Linked DNA regions of Homo sapiens. The protein of the gene in region 1 interacts with the protein of each later gene in a pairwise test. Each region holds a gene or a part of one and is shown in the gene's direction. Other genes may lie near its edges.

Evidence for each region. Proteins that work in one complex are often made in the same cells at the same time.
Region 2: the proteins of PRDM4 (region 1) and EIF4E interact in a two-hybrid assay, tested with the Homo sapiens proteins (one large-scale study listed by BioGRID and IntAct).

The regions. Positions count from the first base shown.
Region 1 is NC_000012.12:107,737,138-107,740,637, reverse strand, and holds part of PRDM4 (PR domain zinc finger protein 4), read left to right. Parts: intron 1-973; exon of another isoform or gene 974-1,086; coding exon 1,087-1,255; exon of another isoform or gene 1,256-1,511; intron 1,512-2,148; exon of another isoform or gene 2,149-2,616; intron 2,617-3,500. UniProt on the Homo sapiens protein: May function as a transcription factor involved in cell differentiation.
Region 2 is NC_000004.12:98,898,134-98,901,633, reverse strand, and holds part of EIF4E (eukaryotic translation initiation factor 4E), read left to right. Parts: intron 1-3,500. UniProt on the Homo sapiens protein: Acts in the cytoplasm to initiate and regulate protein synthesis and is required in the nucleus for export of a subset of mRNAs from the nucleus to the cytoplasm which promotes processes such as RNA capping, processing and splicing.

The DNA.
Region 1 (3,500 bases):
CCAGTCACCAGCCAGAGCCAGTTTCTCTCCTTTAATATTATTGCTCAATAAATATTGCCACAGTTTATTTTTTGAGCTTCCATTTTCTAAATCCCATGCAAACCAACACCTTTCTTTTAGTACTTTTTAAGAAAAAAAAAAATTTTTTTTTGAGATAGGGCCTCACTCTGTTGCCCAGGCTGGAGTACAGTGACACCATCTTGGTTCACTACTACTTCTGCCTCCAGGACTCAGGTGATCCTCCCACCTCAGCCTCCTGAGTAGCATGGACTGCAGACATGCGCCACCACACCTGACTAATTTTTGTATTTTTAATATAGATGGGGTTTTGCCATGTTGCCAAGGCTGGTCTTGAACTCCTGGGCTCAAACAGTCTGCTTACCTCAGCCTCCCAAAATGCTAGGATTATAGGCCTGAGCCACCATGCCTGGCCACTAACTTTTTTTAATAAATACTACAAAATAACTGATGGCTTTAGCTTTCTTGTTGGGGTCATCTTTTCTCCAGATCTTCAAAAGTTTCTTCCCCATCCTTTTGCAACAGAGACCTTATGGCCCACAAAGCCTAAAATTCTATCTATCCTTTAAGAGAAGGTTTGCTGACCCCTTAGAGGAATCTTATTTTTGCATTCTTGGAAGGATTTTGTTTCATCCCTGGTTTTGAGGCAATATTATATGTTTTAAAAAGATAGAAAACTATAAAATCTATCTTGTAAAAGTATGTTTCCCTATAGACACGTCCTAGAATTCATGAGTTTTTTTTTTTTTTCTTTATGTTTGTGTTAGGGCATTAGGATTATAAGTCATTTTTTTCAAGTTTTATGTATCACCTATACATTTTTTAAAAATACATATTTAGGTCAGAGGTCCTAAAGGAGATCAAATTAATTTACTAGCTTTAGTTGCAGAATATAAACTCAGGAGCTCTTGAGTGGTCTCACATAGACAACCCTAGAAAGTAAAATGCTGCTTACCAGTCAGCTCTGTTTCATTCCTGCCTCTGCTGCATGCACATATGTGTGCCTGTGTGTCTTGGGGATGCCAGCAGTTGTTTTCTTCACGGTGTAATACTTTGGGCTGATTGCAGGTCAGAAGAACTACAGGTGTACCTTGTGTGACAAGTCTTTCACCCAGAAGGCTCACCTGGAGTCCCACATGGTTATCCACACTGGGGAGAAGAATCTTAAGTGTGATTACTGTGACAAGTTGTTTATGCGGAGGCAGGACCTCAAGCAGCACGTGCTCATCCACACTCAGTAAGTTACCCTGCAGCCAAGACGTCGTTCCTCAGGTGGTGAGCCTTTGTGTGGCTGCAGCCCACCTGCTGATTGAAGGGCTGGGGAGTCCTGGCTCATCTGTTTCATGCCTTGGTACCATGGTAGATGCCTTCTGTGTTCCATGTAGCCAAGCCAAGGTTGGAACACTTTTTTTGGTGTTATCCTGGAAGATTTCAGTTGTTGGCTTTCTTTTTCTTACTTTTCACATGTACTCTTTTTTCACATCTACAAAAACCTAGAGACAAAAAGGACTATTGACTGCAAGTGGTTGCTTATAGTTAGACGATAGTGTGCATGTGAGAGAGTGATGGAGTGAGAAGAGTAAGAGTCAGCAGCCACACTATGGAGAACCTTTGGTCCTATTAAGAAAATTCAATTTCAGTCCAGAAATAATGGCGAGACACTGAAGGATCTGCCAGCCCCTGCCATTTTGGAACTGTTCTGTTGGTGTGTGTGTGTGTGTGTGTGTGTGTGTGTGTGTGTTTGTCTGAATTGCAGTTAAAAAAAAAAAATTGTTATCTTAACTGTTTGTAAGTGCCCAGTTCAATAGTGTTAGTTATATTCACGTTGTTGTGCAAGCACTATAGGATTTTAAGGAAAGGAGTGTCATAGTGACATACCCATTCTGTTAATACAAAGATTACTTAGGCAGCTGAACAGAGGATGATTGAGGGTGGGGAAGCCTAAATATTGGAAGACCAATTAGGTATTTATTGCATGAATCCAAGTGTAATTAAATGTCTAGACTGCATTAGTCACAGTGGTCATAGAAAGAAGAGATGGATTTTGTTGTCCTTAGCTTTTAACAAGTGTCAGAAGAGGAAGAAAATGTTTTCAGCTTATGTTATGGAAATTCTCTTTAGAAATCTTACCTTCACTGAAAACGTTATATTCTTAATGTAGAATTTGGATAAACACTTGGCTTTGATACCAGTTCTTCTGTCTGCTTCCTTATCACAATGCAGCCTGAGATGCTAAACAGCCAAGGAGCCTGGATCTACATTCCTAACTCTCAGAAGGATATTCTAAAACAAAGACTTCTTTAGTTCCATTGCTAGCATGAAATTTTACAAAATTAGACAGAAATTATCAAATATTACATCAAATTGTGCAATATTGGAGCCAAAAGAGATCCCCGGATCATCTAGTCTTAACATCCTGTCTAGGCAGCTCAGGTTGTGATAATAAAATACCACAGATTTTGTGGCTCAAACAACGGGAGAGACACAGTGAGAGAAGGCAGTCATGAGCAAGCCTGGAAGAGGGCCCCCACCAGAACCCAGCCAGGCTGGCACCCTGATCTCTGACTCCAGCCTCCAGGACTGTGAGAAAATACGTTTCTGTTGAGAGAATGAAAGAGAAAGAATATGAGAGTTCCAATCTCTTCTCATAAGGACACTAATCCTACATCATGGAAGCCCCATCCTCATGACCTCATCTAACCCTAATTGCCTTCCAAAGGCTCCACCTCACACTGGGTGTTAGGGCCTCAACATGTGAATTTGGGGTGAGGGGGGACAAATATTTGTCCAGAAGACTGCCCATTATAATTGCCTGGAAAATGTGAAAAACAACAATTGGTGCTAGGACCCCATCCATGGGAATTCTAATTTAATTGGTCAGAGTTAGAGCTCTGGCCTTGGTATTTTAAAAAGCTCCCCAAGTGATTCTCGTGGCCAGCCAGGGTTAAGGACTACTGACTTCATCCACATGCAAGATTGATTTCCACAATGTCTCTGGCAAGTGGATATATTGTTTCTTAAAGATCACACAATTATAGTTTGAGGAAAAGTTTTGCTTGAATCAAGTCGATATCAGCCTCTATCCTTTCATTTTACTTTTGCTTAACAAATGTGGATCTGGACTCCTTTTCAGGGTGAGAAGATATGGTAAGCCTCTTTGCCAAACTTTCATGGGATAGAAAGAAGGTTTTGGACTGTCAAAACTTAAAGCTGGTATAAGTCATTCTTATAAGAAGCACTGTTCCCTCAAAATGGTTTTGAATGAGGCTTTAGGCTTCCTATGGAGATCGTTGGTAAAATTTTCAGATGCTTGTATTTTTACTTTGGGGCATTTCAAAGTGGATATAGTAGTATTAGCAGTCTTTTTATTTATCTACTTAAAAAAAACAGCTACAGCCCTAATGCCAAATGCAAGAGGAGTTCCCCCCCTAGTGTCCCCCGAGAGTGGAAGGGTGGTGACAGAACCTGGCTTTGCCCTTCCT
Region 2 (3,500 bases), on another chromosome or scaffold:
TAAGTTCCCTTAAGGAGAAGTGAACTTGACTCAGGACAAAGACCGGGGATACTAGCATCATATAGGAGGCTTTTGTTGAAGAAGAATGCCTATGAAGGATGGACATACAAAGACAGTGGTGGTCGCCCAACGCGGTGGCTCACGCCTGTAAACCCAGCACTTCAGGAGGCGGAGGCGGAGGCGGAGGCGGGCGGATCACCTGAGGTCAGGAGTTTGAGACCAACCTGGCCAACATGGTGAAACCCCGTCTCTACTAAAAAATACAAAAATTAGCTGGGTATGGTGGCAGACGCCTGTAATCCCAGCTGCTCGGGAGGCTGAGGTGAGATAATTGCTTGAACCCAGGAGGTGCAGGTTGCAGTGAACTGAGATCGCGCCATTGCCTGCCAGCCTGGGCAACAAGAGCGAAACTCCATCTCAAAAAAAAAAAAAAGAGACAGTGGTGGTCATGGAAACCAAGAAGGTGGTTTATTCTAAGATAGGGTGGTTTACAGCACATGTGCTAAAAAGGTCAAATGAAGCAAGATGTCAAAATATCCATTGGATTGAACACTTTTAAAAAAGTCCGTGCTGACTTGGGAAAAAGTTTTTTAGTAAGGTTCCATAGAGTAGTTCCATAAAACATGGAAAAAGAGATTAGGGCAGTTTGAAGAGTGAATAGGAGATATACAGATGTATAGAGTAAGAACAGGTGACTTGAAGTTGGACTGAGAATGAGAAACGAGAGCCAGGGAATGTGGAGTTTGAAGGTTGGTTGGTTTGTAAGTGAGAGACTAGAAAAGGGGACAGATTAAAATTAGTTAAGTTTTCATAGTTAATAGTGTAACAGGAAATTGAGTATTAGTTCATTATATGGCTTTTCCCAACTCTTCCCACTCCTTTCCAGTAGGTTTGTTTTTATTTATTTTCTGGGGTATATGAGAATTAACTTGAGTTCACTGAATGCTGATGGTGGGAAGAAAATGGCAGTTCAGAAACATTGTAACAATCTAGAGGAAAGTAAATTGGAATTAACTTCTGAGGTTCTTGAAGTATTTCAGTTCATTTCTTGTCTTTTTTTGTTTTTATTTACTTTTTTTAGGGCAGACCATTCACTCTCTACTTAAAAGAGTCCACAAGTCTATTTATAATTGTTTCATTTATTAAAATTTTTTTATGATCTCAATTTTTTTAAATGTTTCCTTTATTCATCATGGAAGACCTACTGAAATAAATAGTTCAAATATGCTGTATGCAGTTTTCTCATAGGAGACCCTTTGGTTCAGTATATCCTCCAGTGAGGAACAAATCAGTTTTTTAGACAATGGAGATTCTCAGCTAGTGGGACATCAGAGGTCAAACAGTCTATAAAGGATAAAATCCTTCCTCAGGGAAGCAATGTACCACATGTATTAGGTTGAACAATTCGTTAGAGGCAGTCTTATATAGTTTAACCTAATAGTAGCACCAAAACCCACATTTTTTTTTCATTTTTTTCAGTGATATGAAACAAACTGTATATCTTCTAGCTGTCTGTGAACCTAGTTCTTGGTGTCACTTTTATTGTGGGGAGAAGTAAACAAGGCATATATCCCTCACAGCTTGAATGGAGTCTAAGAAGGGATTCTTAAGTGTCCTCATCAGTTTAAAAAAAAAAAAAAAGTTTAAATCTTAAAATGAAGTCTCTGGGGACTTCAGTTTCTCTATAAATTCTACTTTTTGTGTAAAATAGCAAGTATCATTTGGAAAAATACTATGTTTTATGGCTCCAATTTTGGCAGTTTTCTCATTATTTACTTCTTGCATTTTACTTTCTTCACTCCCCAGAGTAGTCAATGTTAAATTTGGTTTGTATTCCAGAAGTATTAAATGCACATATGTATACTTTTTAATACATACGTCTATACAGTTGACTTTTCTGTTTGTATGTGCATATTTTACCTCATTGTTTTAAACCACCGTCTTGCATTATATTGATATACCACCATATATTTTATTAGGTTTACATTAATGGCTGTATAGATTTTTCTTTTTACACACAGTGCTGTAATTTACATCCTTACATAATTGTGCACTTGTGTGAATATATAGGGTAAAATTTCAGATCTCCTAGAACAAAGATTACCCTTTAACAACCTTTGCGCAGATACTGCCACATTATTCTGTTTTATTGGCTTAGACTTAACAGTTTGAGAGTTCCTGGTTTCTATATCCTTGCTAACTCATGTGATTAGTCTTTTAAGTTGTTGCCAATCAGATTGGTCCCAGTCTGATTTGGGAAAACAATTTCAGTATTTTCAATTTGCATTTTAAAATTGAAGTTTCAAAATATTTTCATATTGATGATTTGTGGTTTTTATCTGAGGACAGATTATTCAGTTCTTCTATTTTTTTTCTTTTGGATTATCTTTTTTTTCCCCTACTTTCAAGCTAACAAGTTATGGAATATCTTTTCAAGTTTATTTCCAAGCATTTTATATTAGAGTGCTAACTCACCCAAGGCAGGGAAGTTGGAGGAGTATTAAGTCAGAAAGAAACAGGTTATCCATATCATTTGTCTTCTAACATTGTCTGTGGAATTGTATGGTTTTTTTTTTTTTAGAGGTCTTTAATTTTCATGTAGGCAAATACTGCTTTTCCTCAGTGGTTTCTGGGTTTCATATCAATTTTAGGAAAACTTTACCACACAGTTAAGCTTTTTTTTTTAAACTTTTTAATAGTTGCATAGTAGTCACTTGCGTGGATGTATGATATTTTATTTAAATCAGCAGTACTCAAGTATTTGGTCTCACAATTCCTTTACACTCTTAAAAATTATTGGTGACTCTACAGAGCTTTATGTGGATTTTTATCTATTGTTATTTACTATATTTTTACAGTAAATAATGCTAAGATGTTATTTTATTTTTCACATTTAAAAATGTATAATTTCACCTGAAAAACTTGAGAAATGTAAAATTATTCGTTTAGAAAATCTATCACATGTTAACCTAAGTGACATTTTGTAATGAAAATAATTATTTGAAATAAAAAATATATAATGGGAAGAACAGCATTTTTGCCATCTGTTTTTTTTTTTTTCGGAGTCTCGCCCTGTCGCCCAGGCTGGACCTCCACCTCCCGGGTTCAAGCGATTCTTCTGCCTCAGCCTCCCTAGTAGCCGGAACCACAGGTGTGTGCCACCATGCCCGGCTAATTTTTGTAGTTTCTAATAGAGACGGGGTTTCACCATGTTGGCCAGGCTGATCTTGAACTCCTGACCTCATGATCCACCCACCTCGGCCTCGCAAAGTGCTGGGATTACAGGCATGAGCCACCGCACCTGGCCGCATTTTTGCCGTCTTAGAAGTCAACTGGATTTTCATAGCTGTTTCTGCCTTCAGTCTATGGAGTTAAGATGTTTCATTGGAAGTATAAGAAGACAATACAGCCTCACACAGGTATTTGGTTGGAAAAGGGAGAATAGTTTTTAAAAGCCTTTAAAAATAATTGTTGATATGCTCCTTTGATACACTACTAGG